Homo sapiens: one gene and its partners. The protein of the gene in region 2 interacts with the protein of the main gene of each other region in a pairwise test. Each region holds a gene or a part of one and is shown on either strand. Other genes may lie near its edges.

Region 1 (7,798 bases), on a different chromosome or scaffold from region 2:
CTTATTTTAACCAGTACTGTTGATTGTGAGGCTATGTCTGTGTATGTGAGTGTGTGTGTGCTTGTGTGTGTTGTAAACGTAAATATTTAAATTGGTTCATTATAATCTGTGAAAATTAACCTAACTTTATCTGAAAAAAAATTGCAAGTGGCAACGGTAGACATTCTTGTGTCCTGCCTATGGGTAGATAGAAGCTTTTTTCATTTTATTTGTTTGATAGTTTTCTAGCAAATTTATTTAATTAGTAAAAGAATCGAGAGAGATAAAAAGAAAAAAGAAAGTATATAATCATTACAAAAAATTTTATTTAATTAGAGGAATCAGTATAAATATTTTAAAGAACCATATATATTTGCTATATCAAAAAGGAATATTTCAGTATACATATTTATGTAAATATAGATATATTACATATATGAAATAAAAAGAATATAAAGAATACATACAATGAGAGAATTCTTTTTCTAAAATAAACTGATGACAGATATTTTAATGCAGGGGCAGCTTTTGCTTACTATTTCCCATTGCATATTGAAAAATATAATTTTTAGGTTAGTTTATTTCTATCCAACCATTGAAAAATTGGTAGGAAAAGTAACACAATATTATGAAGCATTTAGAAAACTGTGAAATCTTAAATCAATTGAAATTCTATAGTTTAAATACAATAGTTTAATGGATTTTAAAATATCGATTTTAAAATTGATATTTTATGATTGCTACTATTGATAAGAATACTATTTGACGTTTGTATCAGGATTCATGGCCTTCAAATCCTTTACATATATATAACTTCAATTTTATTTCATCTAAGAATTAATTGCTGTCAATTAAGGATAAAATAAAACTTTGACTTTATTTGGATTGTTAATGTAGCCAGGCTCTTCTATTTAAAGAATGAATGTTACAATTAAACAAATAAAGCATTTATATGCAAAGCCCCACTCTCACAAACTGATGCTGAGCTGGACATTAACAGAAAAAAGAAATTAGTTTCACGGATAAGAATGAACACTTGTGGACAATGATGCCACCATGTAGATAGGTTTTAGGGTTTTTTTTTTTCATAGAAAAACAGAGCTGCTTTCTAATGTGCCCGAATATTCAGCAGAGAGTGTGTGCATATGGTTAAAACAATACATGTTTTAGGTAAATACACATGCACCCGAAGAAGCAGCACTGTGATTTGACTAATAAATCATAATATTCATTTAATTTTTTAATGGAATTTAAAACTAGGAATAGTTTTAGAGGTTATTTAGTTCGATTCCCTCATTTTACACATACCATATGTTTCTATGGTGTTTATACTATTGAAGTTAAATATAAACATGTTCAAATCTGTGCAGAGGTAGATTATGAGAAATAAAAGCAATCATCTATTCATCAGCAAGGCACATTCACTTACAAAGTATGAATTATCTATTCATCAACAAATCATAACCATACTGATACGAATTTTAAATAAAAGCAAAACACATATTTATAAATAACCATCCTGAAACGATAACTAGAAGTTCATAGTATTTCTGAATATTTCAGTACTCACCTTATACAAGAACAACATATTCACTGCTAGGGGAAAGGGACCAATTTATTGAATGGTGCATTTATAATTTGAAGCTATAGATATTGAAGCTAGTAATTACATTAGAAATATAGAGTCTGGGGTATGTATTTTGCTAACATTTGAAAAATTACTGGGTATTCTGGAGTGATTTATCTATTTCTACTCACATTCATTTTCCAGCATGCGTTTTTTTCAAAGTAAAAAAAAAAAAAAGGTATGATCAAGGATCAGGTTTTGCAGACATAAAGATGACAGAGAAAGCTCATTTCGTCACTAGAATAATACATTTCATATCTTTAGCATTATCTCCTTATATGTAATTCGCATTGAAGTTGATAATAAATGGAATATGTGCTCAGTGAAAAATGTTTGGAAATACTGAAAAGCAGAAATAAGAAAATGACAATTAACTATAAACGTATTACACAGAAAAACAATACAAAATACATTTTTGTAATTTTTTTACTCTAGATATCCCTCCCTGCCTTTCCCCACCAAATGTATGCACACGCATATCTATATGCTAGATATCCCTCCCTGCCATTCCTCAGAACATATATATGCACACACATGTCTATACCTGTATGTTTTTCTTATGCATTCTGACTCTGCAGCTTACATGATTTGTGACTTTTGGCAAGTAACTTAATTTTTCTGTGCTTTAGCTTTTTAATCTTTACAATATGGATAGTATTAATAGCCATGTTATAGAATTGTAAAGATTAAGTGAGGTGATAAATATAAAGTTTTAGAAACATGTCTGAAATAATGTATATTATTATTAGAATTATATTTTTAAACATTTTAAATTAACAAATCTTTCTCATTTTTAATTGAAAGATTAACCCACTACTAGTATTTTGTAATATTTTCACTAAGCCATAATGAAATCTTTTCCCCTCATGATAATGGTGGTAAACGGAACATCTAAAAAATATGTTCCATGCAAAATGCATCTTCACACAGACTTATTTTGCCATTTTAGTTTGATTTTTGAAGACATGAGTTCAGCACATCTGCCAAATCCTTTTATAAGATGCTACATTCCTGTTTTTATTTTAGTTTATTTTATTTATGAAAAGTTCTTTTCTTCTCCACTCCACCCCCAGACAGTCATTCCTCTCTGTCCTAAACCATAACACTGCTGTACATTGCATTTTTAAAAATAAACCAAAACTGGGAAGAAAAACTTTTTAAAAAAGTAATTCTCCTGTTGGCCTAGCTAGATGAAAAAACAAAAAGCAAAACAAAAACAAAAGCAAAAACAAAATCTTGTATTGAAAATATACTATTTGATAATGGGCTTTTATGTTCGTTTGCCAAATGTAGAATCACAGAGTTTTTGTTGTATTTTTTTTAGTGTGGGAAGGAGGCAACTGGTTTGGGGAGGAAAAAGATGGAGTAAAACAGATGAAGAAGAATCAGTTTGCAAACATATGTTAATATTTAGATTCTTTTTTTAAAAAAGTGAAAACTTAACTAGTGAATGCTTTTCTACAAACTGTCTTTGATACTGTGTTTTGTTTATTCCATCCCAGAAGAAGTTAGCGGTATTCAGCAAGATGCAGGACTCTCTGGAAGTCACCCTTCCCAGCAAACAAGAGGAGGAGGATGAGGAGGAGGAGGAGGAGGAGAAAGACCAGCCTGCCGAGATGGAGTACCTTAACTCTCGCTGTGTCCTTTTCACTTATTTCCAGGGAGACATTGGGTCAGTAGTGGATGAACACTTCTCAAGAGCTTTGGGCCAAGCCATCACCCTCCATCCAGAATCTGCCATTTCAAAAAGCAAGATGGGGCTAACCCCCCTATGGCGAGGTAAGAATTCAAAAGCAGATGTTCTCCAGGGCACTGTCTTTGTTTCGCAACTGCCTGTACCAGGTTCCAGCTGGAGACTTGCCCCTGAGGATGGATATCCACTTGCTTTTTAATATTTAAGGACAGTGAGGAATTTCTTTCAGACAAACAGCTGGATCGGTTTTGTCACATGTGGAATGTAGGGTTGGAAAGGATGCAGTCACACCCCTTAAATTCCTCATGGAAAGTAGTGATACAACCGGCTTGAGTTTATAGTGGCTGCACTGAGCTGCGAAGTACCATTCCTAAAGCCCCAGTGGCCCAATTTGGATCTCTAAATAATAGGCGTGTCTAAATCAGCTTTTAAAAAATTAGCTCTTGCTCATTCCAATAGGTGCTATGTGGTGACATACCAGAGACCTGAGTCTGACCCAGGAATACAGACATTGAAAGCTGTCTGTGTTCTTTGAATAGGCTTCTTTATCCTGATTTGTTATTGTATTAACTCTTTATAGTATACACTCTAGGCATTTTGGCAGCATCCACATGGCTTAAACTAGTGTTTTTACCTTGATAAAGAAAGAGCAGCACATTGGACTCCTTTATTTCTCTCTGTATCGAGCTCACAGAGATGTGTTTGAAACTGATTTCTGACTCATAGAAAATTATTGGTGACATCTAAATCAGGGTAATTACAGGGTTAGATAAAAACATAATACGTCATTCCAATGACAGCTTCAGAGAAATTTGCTACAGTGGTGATTTCTTCCAAATTCACCTGGTTATAGGAATGATCTAGTAAAATGGTTCTCGAGGTGTGATTTTCCTGACCAGGAACATCAGTGCCACATGGGAGCTTGTTAGAAGTGCGAATTCTTGGGCTCCACCCCAGACCTGCAGAATCAGAAGCTCTGGGGTGGGGCAATCTGTGTTTTAACCAGCCCTCCCAGTGACTCCAGTGCAGAGTTTGATAATCATTGATCTAGTCCTGTTAAGGACAGTTTGCAGGACCCCCTTATCTCGAATCTATTGAACTAGAATCTTCATAGGAAGGTGTGGGAATCACACTTTAACAAGGGCTCTGGGTAATTCCTATCATGAGGAAAAGCTGGCTACCTGTGGGCAGGGCCAGGTGAGCAGTGAGCAGTGACTAGTGGTACCTTCTGGGCAGCACAGGAATGGTTCTGCTCTACTGTAGAAGTCCTGGCCACATGGAATTGCTGGGCCTGATCTTTTCTTACCTACTTGACCTTTCTTTTCTTCTCTCCCTCCCTCCCTTCTTACCCTCTCTCCTTCCTTCCCTCCCTGTTTGCCTCTTCTCCTCTCCTCTCCTTCTTTTTTTTCTTTGCTTCTTTACTTTTCTTTTTAGTAAATATAAACAACACTAAACAGTGACTATAAAGGGGAAGGTGGAATACAAATAAAATATCCAAGGCCTTGATGGAAATGAACTGAAAAACATACTAGTTATTTGATTAGTAAATAATATGGGCTTACTATGAGAACTGAGACTTAGTCCTTGGAAGCCTATGATGCTTATGTAATAGACTAATGTCCTATTTAACAGGACGTGATGAATAATTTTAATAATTTGTAGAGGAAGAAAATAGGAAAACATTAGTGAGTTAGATGGCTTTAATAAATAATTTGATATATCAATAATGAATCCTATTAAGATAATCAGTGCCAGGAGAGTAATAAATATAATGTCTACTTCTTTTAGCACATGGGCATATGCAACCTTGCTATCATTTAAACTGAAAAATCAGAATTAATGTCCCAAATTATTTCTTGGTGTGAGAGTGATTGTCTATAGAATCATATTCAAAATAATTTTTAGTGGGATGTTGTGAATGTGCAGAAACCCTACAACACATCAGCATTTTCTCTGTAATTTGCAAAACACATTACACAAGTTCCTTTAGCAGATGTTAAACTGTAGCATAGAAAGGGTTAATAAAGGCAATGTTTTCATAACTACTACTAAAGTTTTCTTGGAACTATCTTAAATTTGATCTTCAAATATGTCTCCTGTTTTATTCATTGACATATTCAGCAAACATTTATTAACCTCCTGCTATGTGTTAGGCAATGTGCTAAGTCCTGAGACAGCCCAAGGCTCTACCCTCATGGAGCTTTTAGGGTAGAAACAGGAAACAAACAATTGTTACAAAATATGTTATTTTACATAAGGTGATAACAAAAGCCCTGTGTGGCACAGTTATGTTTGAGCAGATAGCTGAAGGAAATAAGAATACTCATCATGTGGTTACCTAGGGGAAAGTAATTCTACACAGAAGGGACAGATAGTGCAAAGGCCCTGAAGATGGACTGAGCTTAGAATATTCAATGAGAAGCAAAGATGCTGGTGTGAGGTGAATGAAATGCAAAGTAATAGGTGGAGAACAGATGCTTTAGAACTTTTTTTTTTTGAGATGGAGTTTCGCTCTTGTCACCCAGGCTGGAGTGCAGTGGTGCGATCTCGGCTCACTGCAACCTCCGCCTCCCCAGTTCCAGCGATTCTCCTGCCTCAGCCTCCTGAGTAGCTGGGATTACAGGGACCCTCCACCATGCCCAGCTAATTTTTGTATTTTTTTGGTAGAGACGGGGTTTCACCATGTTGGCCAGGCTGGTCTTGAACTCCTGACCTCAGGTGATCTGCCCGCCTCGGCCTCCCAAAGTGCTCGGAGCCACACTTACAGATGTGAGCCACCGCGCCCCACTGTTTTAGAGCTTTTTACATCAGTTTATCAGCATATACCAGGAGCACACAGCATGCGCTTCAATTTTCATCTCCTATTATCCCACTAAGTCTACAAATACCATATCTTCTTATGGTGCCTCATTTTTTCTGATGCTCACAACAATGTGTTTCTATGTGGAAAATCTGAAATAGATATGCATTGAATGATTAAGTGACTGAATTAAATGAACCAATTTCATACCATGTATCCGGAATTAGAAAACAAGAGTCTTTAATAGAAAATTTCTTGGTAATAAGTTATATGAACTCTTTGGGTACAGTTTTTTTTAATTTATAAAATAAGGGGGTTAAATTAAATAATTGGTAAAAATATTTTCTTCTGTAAAGTTCTGTAATTTCAAAGGTATTATTTGCTTTTCTTAGATCTTTGTCATAATTGTCTTAAGTTGTGAATTAGACAGATTTAGATAAATATATAAAACTTGTGTAGGATTTATAGGAAAGCCACAAACGATAATTAAAAATATAGAAAATGTCTTAAAGAAGAGGTTCAATAAAATGAGACTCACATTTTTATTCTCATAAAATGAGAGAGTTGGTGACAATTTAATATTAATTGGCAAAGCTACACAGGATTGGAAAATACAGTCTTTGGAGTCCATTTGTTTTAGATTCATGTTCCAGCCTTTACCTTCTGGTTGCAATGTGATCTTGGATTACTAAATTGAAATCTCTTACATCAACTTCCTCAACTGTAATATGTGTTTATTGATACCCATCTCATAGAGTTATTGTAAAGATTTTTAAATAATGTATATGAATAATTTAGCATAGAGCTTGACTCAAGGTGCTAAATGAAAGCCAGATGCCTTTTCTCTCTTCCTTAAGTAAGTTTCCACTCATTTGACACATAGAAAACAAACCCTGAGCCTTTATCCAGGAACATTGTTTTCTGGAACTTTGTGTTTTTGGTACAAAACACACAGTCTTAGATAATAGTAGATACTAAAGGCTAATGATAATGTTAGTGGCCATGGCAATGATGCTTAGAAAGGAACTGCTGACCGAGTATTAAAGGGTCTAGTTTACAGCATAAAGTTATTACAGTGCCACAGAAGTGCTACCATGCTACAAACAAATTTAATAACTGAATCGTGTTTGACTAAGAATATATTTACACGGTAAATCTTTAGACAAAGAATAGTGTGTCAGCTAATAATGAAAGAATGGTTATACTTTGAATGTATATCTCCTTCATGAAGCTAGGTAAGTTTTTTTAGGTGTTTTTCAGCTGTAAGGCAAACAATGATAGGAAGTATATGTATTTTACTTGGCACAATGTCTTATCAGTTACCTCTAATCCTGCTATATATTCTAACAGGGTTGAAAGAATTTCATTTCTTTCCATTAAGAAAACCTAACTAGCTGGGCGTGGTGGCTCATGCCTGTAATCTCAGCACTTTGGGAGGCCGCGGCCGGGCAGTTCACCTGAGGTCAGGAGTTCGAGACCAGCCTAGGCAACATTGTGAAACCCCATCTCTACTAAAAACACAAAAAATTAGCCAGGCAAGGTGACAGCCACCTGTAATCTCAGCTACTTAGGAGACTGAGACAGGAGAATCGCTTGAACCCGGGAGGTGGAGGTTGCAGTGAGTCGAGATTATGCCATTGTACTCCAGCCTGTGTGACAGAGTGAGACTCTATCTAAAAAAAAAAAAAAATAACAAACC
Region 2 (8,317 bases):
TAGAAGAGTAGGGAAAGCAACCACAAGAAAGTGTTATCAAGTCAGCCACCATTGCAAGCAACTTGTGCGTGATCCCATGGGACTTCCTGAAGTGAGTTTCAGTACTGTATTAGTCCGTTTTCAGGCTGCTGATAAATACATACCTGAGATGGAGCAATTTATAAAGAAAAAAATGTTTAATGGACTCACAGTTCCACGTGGCTGTGGAGGCCTCACAATCATGGTGGAAGGCAAAAGCACATCTTACATGGCGGCAGACAAGAGAGAATGAGAACCAAGCAAAAGGGGTTTCCCTTTGTAAAACCATCAGATATTGTGAGACTTATTCACTACCATGAGAACAGTATAGGGGAAGCCGCCTCCATGATTCAATTATCTCCTATTGGGTGTCTCCCACAACACATGGGAATTACAGGAGCTACAATTGAAGATGAGATTTGGGTGGAGACATGACAAAACCATATCAAGTATTATCTACCTGGAGGACAAAAGTGGGGAGTTTTCATCCTTTGGTTTGCATTCTCTGTTGCCTACACTTGACCCCACTTCTGGGTGGTACATATGTGAGTGCAGAGAAAATTAACATGGACTTTCCTTGCCATGGCATCAGAGAAGACCTAGCAGGAAGCAAGGAGCACGTGAGTTGCCTCAAAGTGAAGGAAGCACTTTGGGACTGCACCATCATGAAACTGGCTTAAGTGTGTGCAAAGAGGCTACAGTAAGAAATGAAGTGAGACAGTTTCGAAGTAGTGCACAAGAATGTTCGATGTGCTTGGCAAAGATGCTCCCTGTTTCGGACTTGGCTTCTCATCAATCAGATAAGAGAATTGTATGAGAAGAATTTAAAATGCAGCACTGGAAGTCTAATTACCAACCTGAGATAGTGCTGGCCTAATGTTACACTCCTAATCCCCCAGACAGGCAGATCAGACCAAGAAGAACTATGTTGAAAGGGCATAAGCACAGGTCAATTAAGTCATGTTAAGAGAAGACCTATCCACTTTACCTGTCTCCTACATAGATTCCAGTATCCTTACCCCACAGAGTACCTAGTAGGCCCTGAACAATTCTGGATCAGGGAAGGATGATACATCTTGGGAGACTCGGTGCCTTCTCTCTTAGGCCCTGTACATAAACATTACTCATGTCTGGTTACAAATGGGTCTCCCTCTCTTTATTTGGAAGGCCAGGACTGGAGCCCATGCCAACGACACATGGGCTTTGCCACATGGGAGTTAGTTGTGCTGAAAAACACTTGGGATTCTACTCACCTTTCTTGACAGCACCCTGATTTTGATCTCCATTGAAGACACACATGAAAAACCACATGAATCTGAAAACAGGCATCAACAGAGAGAATGGTTCAATTTAGAATTTTTCAACCTTGACACTGTCCTCTGAGGGTTTATTTTTACACAAGTCATGTAGCTGGTGATTGCTATTTTCGGGTTCAAAAAGCAGCAACTATTTTGCTGGTCTTTGCTTGTTTCTTTCACCTTCTGCTTTCTGCCCTAGAGTTCCTTCCAGCCCAAATTATTCAACCCTTCTTATGATTGATGCTTTTTGAAAAGAGATTGGAAAATGAATTTCAGTTCCATTTTGTGGTGCAAATCACTGAGCCTCCAGGGCTTTATAATGTCTTGGTTAATAAAGATTCTGGAGATTCAACCCAGAGGTCCGTGGGAAGTTGGAAAGAAAGCAGAACAACTCAGCCAAGATGTATTTAATTTTTAAAACAACCATTAAGTTCTACACTTAAGCTTCTGAATTTCCTTTTTATATTTCTTAAGAGACAATGAATAGCTTCAATTTGAGAGGGTGATCATTCTGAAAAAGTGCAGAATGACAGCATTTCATTTCATATATATTAATTTTTCCACAAGTTCACTATTCCTCCATTCGATGAGGCTAAGTGGTTTTCTCTGAACTGGCGTTGGTCAACATTATTATCAAATTTGTGATGAAAAATATCCTTTCTGCCTATCAAACCTCCAGCCTCCCTCACATGCTTAGCTCATTTTACTCTCAAATGCTTGGCCTTGTAAATGATTGCTGTGATTCAGTTTTGAGTGAAAGAATTGCTCATTTCCAGCCTGTGATAATTATTGTATAAGGCTTAGATTGTTCTATACAAATGAGAGCAAATTATCCATCAGTGATGAAGATAATGGGTAGTAGTTCCTCGATCTCTCCTCATCTGCTCCTATTACCCATCCCCTCACTTCACGCTCTGCAGACATGAGAATAATAATCTTCACAAGACTTTTTGCTGAGTTGAAGTTTGAGGTTGTGCCTAACTACATAGTGACAGCAATTGGCCGTGTAATTTTTTCTTACATTCCAAGGAAAGGATGATTTATTAATTTCATTGAACAACATTGTCAAATTAAAATTGTGTAGAGTTTCATCAAGCTTATGTGACTGTCAGTACATGTTTCTTTACTTTTGCAACATACAGTGAATGCAGATAAAGAGTCAAAGTGCTTGCATGTGACAATAAAATGCATGAGAGTATCAAGTAGCTTGCCTACCTCTGTGTGGCATGGTGTATTTTCAGAGAATAGCAGAGAAGTGTATCGATTTTTCACGTTGGCAAGACCTTTATGAGAAATGTTATTCACAAACTCTGAAATCATTTTAATATAAGACTTCAGAAATAATCTGCTTGTAGTCACAATGTAAGCTGAAGTTTCTTTTAATAATTAATCTAAGGGATCTACTCAACATTTTCCCTCTATTTAGCACCTGAAAAATGGCAGACTCTGGAAAATGGATAAGACTGAAAAATCAATTCACTTATCTGCTACGCTCTGAAAATTTGTTGTGTGCACAGCTATTATACATAATTATAATTTCAAACTATAGCTTCAAGCTATTAATGTTTCTCTATTCTTTTTTGCTTTGTTTGTAGTGACCTTGTGTCTTATTCTAAGGATTAAAAATTGTTAAATTGGATACAGAATGAACAAAACATACGAAGTAGGACAGCAGTGCTTGTGACTTACTATTTTATTTATTTCCATTGTTAATCAATTGATGAACCTAGAAGAGAAATGATTATATCCTTTATAATGTCATCAATGAAGTATTGATTGATTGATTAAAAATAACAAATTCTTGTTCACACTTGAAGGAAGGCATCTCATCACATTTAAATATCCTCAGTGTGAGTTGGTAGTTCAGAGACTCTGTTTTAGTTGAATCTCAACTTAGTCAAATATAAACTGCATGACCTTGGCGAGCCACCCAGGGTCCCTGAACTTCAGCTCCAGTATGTGACATGATACCTACTCCACAGAGTTGTTGTAAGAACTCAGTGAGATGAGTTGTACAAACCTTTATTTTTTTAAATTTTATTTATTTTTTTGAGACGGAGTCTCTCTCTGTCACCCAGCCTGGAGTGCAGTGGCTCGATCTTGGCTCACTGCAAGCTCCGCCCCCGGGTTCATGCCATTCTTCTGCCTTAGCCTCCCGAGTAGCTGGGACTACAGGCGCCCACCACCTCGCCTGGCTAATTTTTTGTATTTTTAGTAGAGACGGGGTTTCACCATGTTAGCCAGGATGATCTCGATCTCCTGACCTCGTGATCTGCCTGCCTTTGCCTCCCAAAGTGCTAGGATTACAGGCGTGAGCCACCGTGCCCGGCTGAGTTGTACAAACCTTTAACTCAATGCCTGGAAGAGAGTTGTGTGCTTAAAAGACACTCATTTTCTTTTTTCCTGAAGTGATGGAAGATATTTTCTAGGATCCTTTTATCTGTAATTTCCAGCTTTCAATGGGAGAGACACATCAAGACAAGGTAATAACTTATACAATTGTCTGTCATTCCAGGAATGTGGCAGTAGGCACTGAAACGTTCTCCTTTGTAACTCTACTACTCACTTCAGATTTTGGGAATTGCCACAGTTAAGTACTCTTCCATAGTAGCCTGTGAACCTGTGGCTGGGAGAAGCCTGTAAACTAGTAATCCATTTTACAACATGCAAGCCAGGCCCTAGGGCCAAGGACTCAGGCCTTCAAACACCAACTAAGATACCCTCTGTGGTGGGAAGAGCATAGCCACAACATTGTGGAAAGTAGTCATCTCATTAATTTCACCCCGTTCCTGGGAACACATGGTGAGTCACTGAGGGAGGGTCAGGACATTGAGGTCTGATATCTGGGAATCATGCTATTGCTCACAGCACCCTCTTCTTTGGGTGTGTCGTTAGTTTCCAATTAGGGATTTCTGATGAGTCCTGACATAACGCTGTTTGCTTTGTGGATATTTAAAACATAGCTTACCTGTAGCCCTCAAATACATGGAAATCCATTTTATTCCCTTACGCTCCCTCATGTAAGCTAGTTTAAAAATGAGTCAGATGCTACAGCTGTTTTGGGACAGAAATACCACTGACCACTTGAAGCGATGTTGAAGTTGCTTATTTTGCCAGAGTTGAGGCAGTTTATTCATCTATGTTCAGGTGGACCCAAACGAGCCATCATTCTGGTGTTTAAAATTCATTATATTGTAGTGAGATGAAATAAAATAGAGTGATATCCCTATAGCTTCCCCAAGCATAAAAAGAATAATTAAATATAGCACACTCTTCACACATCTCTTCATTACCAAACATTGATTAAGTGCCTGCTTCCCCCAGCTCTGCCTCCCCCTTATCCCTGATGGAGACAATGACCTTGAAGAGCCTTTAGTTTGTCCATAATTAAAATGCATTCTATCTATATGTGTGAAAATAAATATCTTTTGAACATATTGAACAAATTGGGAGAAAGACACTGTACCCTTTCAAATTAACATTATGATAATTTTAAAAATTAACTAAGCCTTTTCCACTGGCATATTAATGAGACCCAGGAGTCACTATTATCCACTGTTATTAAATTAAACATTTTAGGAATAAAGCTCATCCAATTTACTTAGAAAAGGTCTTGGCTACAAATACAGTTGCACTTAGTTAGCTTCTAATTTGCTTTGTTGGTTGAACATAAAGGGTGGGTCCCACTGCCCTCTAGCCTTCCCACGGGCATCTTGTTTGAGTCAGTTGATTAATTTTGAGAGCCAGCTCAGACTTTGGATACAAGTCTCTGTGCCCTTTGTTCCTGTCAAGTGTTGTCACTGTTGTCTTGAAACATATTCAAGGAGGCACCTTCCCAATGAGGAGCTCCGTTAGGTGTGGTAGAGTGACTGATTAAGTTATGTTTAAAAGATATTAAGTCCAGTGACAAATGAAACAGGGCATGGGCTTGTAATTGGTCCTGGTAGGGAGGGAGAGAGTGTGTGATGGTAGGATGGTGGCATCTTTGGTAGGATGAGTGTCAGGTCAACACTCATCATAAGCAAGATGAATGAGGGACAACGTGTGGGCTGGGATGACCAATAGCTTTGAAGCTGCCAACCAGCCTTCTTAATCAGACTAAGTACAGTACAGAAGACTTGTGATTTAGTTACCAAACTACTAAACTTTCTTTATGAGGGTGAAGGCTTCTTAAGAGACAATTAATGTGTAGATTCACAAGATGTTCTAAGGCAAACTGGTCTGAGCCAAAGAAGCCACGGAGACCAGGGAGAGAGCCCCACCCACCAGCAAGGATATATAAAAGCTCAGGAGTCTGGAGTGACATTCACAACTCAGGAGGTAACTTCAGCAAGCTACCTGCAGCCCTCTGTCTGACATCATGTCCTTCAACTGCTCCACAAGAAATTGCTCTTCCAGGCCCATTGGAGGACGCTGCATTGTTCCAGTGGCCCAAGTTACCACGACTTCCACCACTGATGCTGACTGCCTGGGCGGCATCTGTTTGCCCAGTTCCTTCCAGACTGGCTCTTGGCTCCTGGACCACTGTCAAGAGACCTGCTGTGAGCCCACTGCTTGCCAGCCAACCTGTTACCGGCGAACTTCATGTGTCTCCAACCCTTGCCAGGTGACTTGCTCTCGACAAACTACCTGTATTTCCAACCCCTGCTCAACTACCTACAGCCGGCCGCTCACCTTTGTCTCTAGTGGATGTCAGCCCCTGGGAGGCATCTCCAGTGTCTGCCAACCAGTGGGCGGCATCTCTACTGTCTGCCAACCAGTGGGAGGAGTCTCTACTGTCTGCCAGCCAGCCTGTGGGGTCTCCAGGACGTATCAGCAGTCCTGCGTGTCCAGCTGCCGAAGAACCTGCTAAGTGTGTAGGAGCCAGTGAGCGAATCAAGACTCCACGACCTGCCAGCTGTTTCCAGGATCTTCCAGCATGCTGCTTGTCCCTGAATAGCTCTTCATAGCTGACCCTTCTTGTGACCGCCTGACTGCTGGCTACTATCCATGCACACGCTGTCTTTAGCACTCTAAAATTTTTCTGGCCAGCCCTAAGCTTGTTTTAAGGGTTGCTCACTGGTGCTGTGTATGCCTCTGGATGTGTCCAGAAGCTTTACCATCCACACCCCAGTCTCTGATGCTTTTGACATGTTTTCACCTTGCTGCTGTATCTCCTGGCCTCTGCTTTTGTGTCTCACAAAAACAGAGCTTGTCTCACCATGTATTTCTCAATAAACCTGCATTAGTTGGCATTGCAAATGTATGTCTCAGCAGAATTCTTTTTTAAACATTTCAACTTTTAATTTAGTTTTTGCGGGGTACATGTGCAGGTTTGCTACAGGGGTATACTGTGTGATGCTGAGGTTTGGGGTATGATTGAACCCATCTGTCAGGTATTGAACATAGTACCCAATAGGTAGTTTTCCAACCCTTTTCCTCTTCCTCACTCCCCGCTCTTCCAGTTGCCAGTGTCTATTGTTTTTATCTTTATGTCCACGTGTACCTAATGTTTAGCTCCTACTTATTAGTGAGAACAGGTGGTATTTAGTTTTCTCAACAGAGCTCCTTGTTTGCAAGAGTCTTTGCTGATCAGGGTCTGATTTTTTTTTTCCTGAGCCTAGAATATGGGCTTAATCATTATGCCCTGTGACCAAACCAAGGATTATCTTATATTTTACTTGTTCAGAGAGAGTCTTCAGCTGTGCGGTGAAGTAAGGGCTATGATTTTTCTTTTCTTTTCTTTCTTTCTTTTTCTTTTTCTTTTTTTTCTTTTTTTTGAGATGGAGTCTCACTCTGTCGCCCAGGCTGGAGTGCAGTGGCACGATCTTGGCTCACTGTAAACTCTGCCTACTGGGTTCAAGTGATTCTCCTGCCTCAGCCTCCAGAGTAGCTGGGATTACAGACGTTCACCACTACGCCCGGCTAATTTTTGTAGTTTTAGTAGAGACAGGTTTCACCACGTTGGCCAGGCTGGTTTTGAACTCCTGAGCTCAGGTGATCTGCCGCCTCGGCCTCCTAAAGTGCTGGGATTACAGGCCAGGGCTATGAGATTTCTAGGAGTAACTTGTCTTCTACGTCTCCTTCCATTTCTAGGGGCACATGGAATAACTTACATTTAGGAAAAAGAAAAGTTACCCAGAAAACCAGGTATTTCAGAAAGATGTGCAGGGAAGGGAGCAGTGGGATCACTGAGAAGTGCTGAGTCTTATTTAGTTAGAGGATCACAGTAGAAACCTTTGGAAAAGATTCCTCCATGATCAATCGGGATGGAAGGAGAAGGAGAAAGAAAGAGAAGGCACTTTTCAGGCCCTGAAATTAATCACATCAAAAGAGTGGCTCTAGCTTTATACCCACCTCACTCATGGTAGTGGATTAGTAGAATCTGCCAACGAGGGATACCAATTGACTGTTCGAGTCAGAGCCCTGAGAAAATTAAAGCTCTGTGTTTTAGTAAATCTGGGCAGGAGAGACTTAAAAAGAAGCTTAAAAACCTGTTGGCTTATATTAATACTTAGTCATACTTCTTGCTCGTTCTTCCCTGGAACTCGTGTACTAAATAAATCAAACCATCTGGATAGGTGGAGGTTGACATGCTAAGTCCTTTTGCCATTTTTTTTTTTTTTAAGGAAGTGAAGACTGGCTACCAACTGGTTTGCTTTTGCCCTTCTCATTTGTTCTGTCCAGAAAAACATCTTGATTTTCTTTTCAGAGTTGCTCAAGGAGATACAAAAGCAGATGATTTTTACACAAAATGGAGACATATGAGGTACACATGCCATCAACAATGGGTGTCTTTTTTCATAACAGAAATGCTGGTGTCTTGTGGAGAATTTGATCTCACTCTGTGTTGTCAGTGCAAAATGGATTTCTTATTTCTCTGATGGTTTTTCAGAGGTGAAATATATAGATTATTTCCATATAGATGCAATATTTTTAATTTTTCCCATTGATGGCTCTACTCTTAGGATTCCCCTAATTGGATTATGTTAGTATGCATGGCTCATGGTAATATCTCAACA
Region 3 (5,259 bases), on a different chromosome or scaffold from region 2:
GAATGCTTTATTAAAGTGACAGTACCAGCGACTCCTAGCATATCTACAGAACTAAGTTCATTAAGTCTAGCTGATAAATCTAACTTTTTATTAACTTAAAAGTTAGGATAAACATTTAAAAAAGCTTCTACTGTAGATATGCCCCATTTCAAGAAACTATAATATACACAAAACCTCATGCTTACAAAATAGTCAAAGTAGGGAGAGAGTATTACAAAAAATTTTTACTGTACAAAATAACTCACTTGAGCATTTGTTAAAAGATAATTTGGATTACAAAATTTTGATTAATGCACTTTCCAGGAAATACTAGGTTGGTGCAAAAGTAACTGTGTTTTTGCCATTAAAAATGACCCAAAACTGCAATTACTTTTGCACCAACCTAATTATCCAGTTCATAATTTGGGCTCACCTATGTCTAGATTCAACATCTATAGGGAAAGAAGTAAAATGGGTGTGTAAGAAGAAAAAGTCAAAGCAAATAAGCAAAAATCATCATAATAGTACAGGCTAATAAATGAAGAAATCGAGAGACAGTTTCATTAATTAATATATTTTCTGCATTATAGTTAACATATGTACTTTCTTCGTGTCACCTTATTTTCCGTTAAGTATTGATATTTTGTTATATTCAAACATGAGTACATTTCAACAGTCTTTTGCAATAAATACCATAAAATAATAGAGATTCGCATAATAAATATTCTTTACAATAAAAAAGTTTAACAGACTTTTGTCTTAAAAATAGTCAGAATTCAACTTTGTGATTTATACATAAAATATACAAAAAGCACCACAATTTGTGGTTAAGGCAAGGAAAACACAGAAGAGATTAGAATTACTCAGCTGTTAACTATCCAAGGGGCCAAAAGGACCATTAAGGAGCCAAGATCACTTTAGGCAGCATAGTTCTGTGACACATATAGATTGATCAGCTATAAATATCAACTTGAGTTATCCAAGTGCCCTCAATGACAACAAAAATTTGGTGAGAAGCATGGGGTGAAGAAGGAAGGTGGCTGAGTCCTTCACAAATACGAAGGCTAGAGTGAAGATGGGCAAGGTCCAACCAATATTATCTCCAATGTGAAGATTTACATTGTAAGGCGAATCTAAAATTACATAGAAAGAAAAAATACACTTGGCATCTCCAGAGTAAGACAACAACAAAACTGAGGGGGAAAGAACCTTGAAGGAGAAAGAAGGAGAGGGCAGTGGTTAAAGGAAAATTTTTACGTTATAGCAAAAAATATATCCCCCATGCTACTTAAGGGGCCTATGCTAGGAAGATAGCCCTAACTGGAGACAGATTTAATACATAGCTTATTTAAGCAATTAAACAGTTGCTTTTTAAAAAACCAATTTCCCTGCTCCCACGGTACCCAATCAAAACAACTCTAAATCACTGTAGTCTGGATGTGGGTGTATGTTCATGTACACAACTTTAGAAAGTTGCTTGCAGAACAAAAAGGCTACACAAAAGCCCACTGGCTCTCAATACCCTCAAGTGGATGGCAGAGGCTCTTGTTGAAAGTGGGAGCCAGGTGCAGCTTCCCAGTCCACTCTTGCTGAAGATCATCCATGAGGAAAGAGAAAAATCCATGAGTTAGACCTTGGCAACAGGGGAAGAGAAGGTGGGAAACAGGGAAAAATTCTAAAGAAAACAAAAACAAAAACAAAAACAAAAAACAGCCACAACTTGAAAGCTAAAAGTTCAGGAGGTACAACCCACCTCCAAAAATCATGATGGTTTACCCTGACCCCGGGAGGGGCAGCTCTCCAGCTTACAATAGACAGTGTTGGAGTTCTTACATCTGCACCCTGGGCGATGGATCCAGTCATAACACCTCCTGCACAGCTTCAGGCATCCTTTAGCAGGAGGATAACAGAGTAAGCAAGGTAAAAATAAAGACATGGCTCCCATACACAGGTATCTAGAGCAGCAGTGTGATTGTGAACAGGAGCAAGGATTATCTGAATAGGAATCCCCTTCGTCGTCATTGGAGCAGTGGTAGAAGATGCCCTTGACTAAGCACATGCAGGTTCCATATTCCACCATGCTCTCAGCAGAGCAAAGGCACTGCCGGTTACAGGCCAAACAGGATGGTAGGGTCCTGGGAGCAGTGCATTCTCCACACTTGCACTTCCCACACTGTTCACAAATGAACTTGTGCTGTGTCAGGTCCTCTTTCAAGGAACCCTTCAAGTCATCCACAATCAGTTGCTTGGGCTGGGTCCGGATTGCCCTTTCAGACCTATGACCAGGGACTGGTCTGGTTGGTGGTGACCTTCCTAACAGTCCCTGTTCAGAAGAGGCACTGCTGTTGCTCCCAGAGCTGGCTGCACTTCCAGTGCTGGTTGATCTGCTCAAAATGGGGCCCCTGGCATTACTTGGGAGTACTGCATGTCCCAGGTGGCTTGTGTGTCTGTGCTCGTAGTTATTATTCACATTAATTGGTATGATTTCATGAGTCCTTTCATGCTTTTCTTGTCTTGGTGCTGTCCGAGGAGCAGGTCTTTTCACCACCGAAGGCCCTTCTGTGTATTCATTGCTGCCTCTTATGGCCTTGATCTGGTCTAAGGACAAAATAGCAGTAGGCTGAATCTCTCTCTCATAGTCTAATCTCTGACGGCTATCCAAAGAAGGCTGCTGGATCACAACTAACGAACTGCCACTGCCATGTTGATTTTGGGGATCCATGTGTAGTGATCTCGAGTTCTGGCAATCAGTGGAAACCTGGCATGCATCTGAAATCCTAAAACGAAATCAAAGATGAAAAAAACAGAAAATAAATGACAGGAAGCATTTTTTTTGGGGGGGGGGAATCCTGTCAAATCACAAATTGCCTAAACCGCCTAGTAATGACCTCCTTCATCAGTGGATTACAATGATGCTGGGGTCCTGGCCAGAGTCCAATTCTAGGAGAGGCTGGGGACCACATCATAGAGGAAGACTATAAACAAGAGACCCCATGCCATGAACATTATAAGTTTTTCCAACTTTTAAGAAGCAGAATCAGGAGAAAGTAATGCCTTCCTGTTTGTGAATCTAATAATTAAAATGGAGCATGCCTTCGCAGGGAATACTGAGTATAAGCAGGAGAATAACTCTCATCTAAAGAAAGCTCAGTTATCAGTTCATAGGTGGCTTCCATAAAGGAAAATGTCTACCTTTTAAGAAATTGAGAATGGCTTTGGTGCTACAGCCTTTTTGTTGTGTGCTGTTATATGCATTAGATTAATGATGAAAAAAATTAAGGCATTAAAAAATTGAGACTCTTAAAATGAAATCGCAAAATAATAGGTAATTTTCTATATAAATCAGAATTTTAAAACTACCTTATTATTCATCTATGAGATGCAAAAATAAATGTATCAGGTACACAACGATTCTTGGTGTTTTGGAGCTACAAACACACACACACACAAGACTCAATGTATAGTCCAGTGAATGATATATAACAGTACTCATATTTGAAATCCTGAGAGGATTTTTTTTAAGCTGAAGGGCTCACTCACAAAACAAAGTAAGTTTTATGCACAAATAAGTGTGAGGCCTTTAACGCAGTGTAGGGAAATCCTGGCAGTTTTAATTATCTGTATTTCCTCTGATTTAAAAATCTGTATTTACATGACAGACCTTGATTTTCAAACGCACTGCCAATTCTGATTCAACGTTCTTCTTGTAACAAAATCAGCACACTAATATCCAGATAAAAATAAGCAGTTGTGTTTCCATACTAATAGTAAGTTATTTCTAATTTATGTGTTCTTCACAAACTGCCAAAGATGAAAGTTTCTGCTTTCAGTGGTGAACTAGAGTATTTTTCACACAAATTCCTTCTAAAGTCTACAGAGTCGACCCAATTCAAGAATGAAAAGAAAAAGAAATGTCCATTCTCCACTACCAACCTGAGGCAAAAAACATGGTTTAAGGAACAACGCAGAAAGAAGTCCATTTCCTATATTTCCTAAACTAATGTCTCTAAACTATGTCTTACATGTTAACTTCTTGGAGCTCCCCCTCGTTTTCACAACTCAGCTCTCTCGAGTTTCTACTTTATTCTACCTTCTTTGCGCATGAGGAGTAACACATTCATAACCTGCGGGGATTTAGTCTCGGAGTCCTCAACATCTAATCCTGACTCCTGCACAATTATTCCTCTTCTTCAAGAACTTCTTAACTCAGTGCTTTCAAAGCAAAAGGTAGCTAAAAGTACTAAGCCAGATTCACAAAACCGCAGAGGATTTGAATAGTGTAACCCATAACACCAGGCACAACTTCAATTTGCATTTCCAATGATAGTTGTAACAAACTTCATACTGGCTGGGAAATAAAGTTGCCAGACAAAAAAATTAAAAGCAAAGAAAATTCGCCACCTCCGATCCGAAGAAAAGCCCATTTTCAAGCAGTGACAGTCTTGGACAAGCCCCAAACACGCTCACACGCGCTCGGCACACTGCCTTCCCCAAGAAAACGCGAATGGAAGTAGAATACCTTTTCGGACAATCCCATCACCATATTAAGGATCACCGTGGATTTCCAACACACTTTTTGGGTGGCCCACCAAGGTTTCTGAGAAATCATGAAGAGCCTTCAGCGTCCACGCGGGAGCCCAAAGCAAGCCCACGGTCTGGCTGACCCTAAGCAAGGATTTGTCTATGCTTTAAAGGAAAAGCTGGGTTCACCGAGGGCCGAGGAGAAAGAAGCCAGCGCAGGGGCGGCCACATTGCAAGTTACCACGGTGGAGCTGCGCCCTCTGCAATCCGCACTGAATAAATAGTTGACGGAAGAAGGAAAAGGAAAAAGTTATGAATGAAAACAAGTTCTTTCTCCCTCTCTCTGTGGTAGGAGGAGGGGAGGAGGCTGAGGTTACCATGAGCTCAGGAGGGCGGACTTCCCCACTTTTTTTTTTTGAGCCGGAGTCTCACTTTGTCTCCCAGGCTGGAGTGCAGTGGCGCGACCTTGGCTCACTGCAACCTCCGCCTCCCGGGTTCAAGCGGGTCTCCCGCCTCAGTCTCTCGAGTAGCTGTGACTACAGTCGCGCGTCACCACGGCCGGCTAATTTTTGCATTTTTAGTAAAGACGGGGTTTCATCAGTTGGTCGGGCTGGTCTCGAACTCCTGACCTCAGGTGATCAGCGCGCCTCGGCCCCCCCAAGTGCTGGGATTACAGGCGTGAGCCACCGCGCCCAGCCGACTTCCCCACTTTTAAAGTGGCAGTGCCCTCTCCCTTCCCCTGTCTTTGCACTGTGCTCC

What was found. Proteins that work in one complex are often made in the same cells at the same time.
Region 1: the proteins of KRTAP11-1 (region 2) and VGLL3 interact in binary tests that used the Homo sapiens proteins (3 or more experiments, as listed by UniProt).
Region 3: the proteins of KRTAP11-1 (region 2) and SPRY1 interact in binary tests that used the Homo sapiens proteins (3 or more experiments, as listed by UniProt).

The regions. Positions count from the first base shown.
Region 1 is NC_000003.12:86,974,113-86,981,910, reverse strand, and holds part of VGLL3 (transcription cofactor vestigial-like protein 3), read left to right. Parts: intron 1-3,108; coding exon 3,109-3,385; intron 3,386-7,798. UniProt on the Homo sapiens protein: May act as a specific coactivator for the mammalian TEFs.
Region 2 is NC_000021.9:30,878,884-30,887,200, reverse strand, and holds KRTAP11-1 (keratin-associated protein 11-1), read left to right. Parts: upstream 1-5,620; 5' UTR 5,621-5,676; coding exon 5,677-6,168; 3' UTR 6,169-6,557; downstream 6,558-8,317. UniProt on the Homo sapiens protein: In the hair cortex, hair keratin intermediate filaments are embedded in an interfilamentous matrix, consisting of hair keratin-associated proteins (KRTAP), which are essential for the formation of a rigid and resistant hair shaft through their extensive disulfide bond cross-linking with abundant cysteine residues of hair keratins.
Region 3 is NC_000004.12:123,399,034-123,404,292, reverse strand, and holds the end of SPRY1 (protein sprouty homolog 1), read right to left. Parts: intron 4,754-5,259; exon of another isoform or gene 4,499-4,753; intron 2,757-4,498; 5' UTR 2,702-2,756; coding exon 1,742-2,701; 3' UTR 538-1,741; downstream 1-537. UniProt on the Homo sapiens protein: Inhibits fibroblast growth factor (FGF)-induced retinal lens fiber differentiation, probably by inhibiting FGF-mediated phosphorylation of ERK1/2. Inhibits TGFB-induced epithelial-to-mesenchymal transition in lens epithelial cells.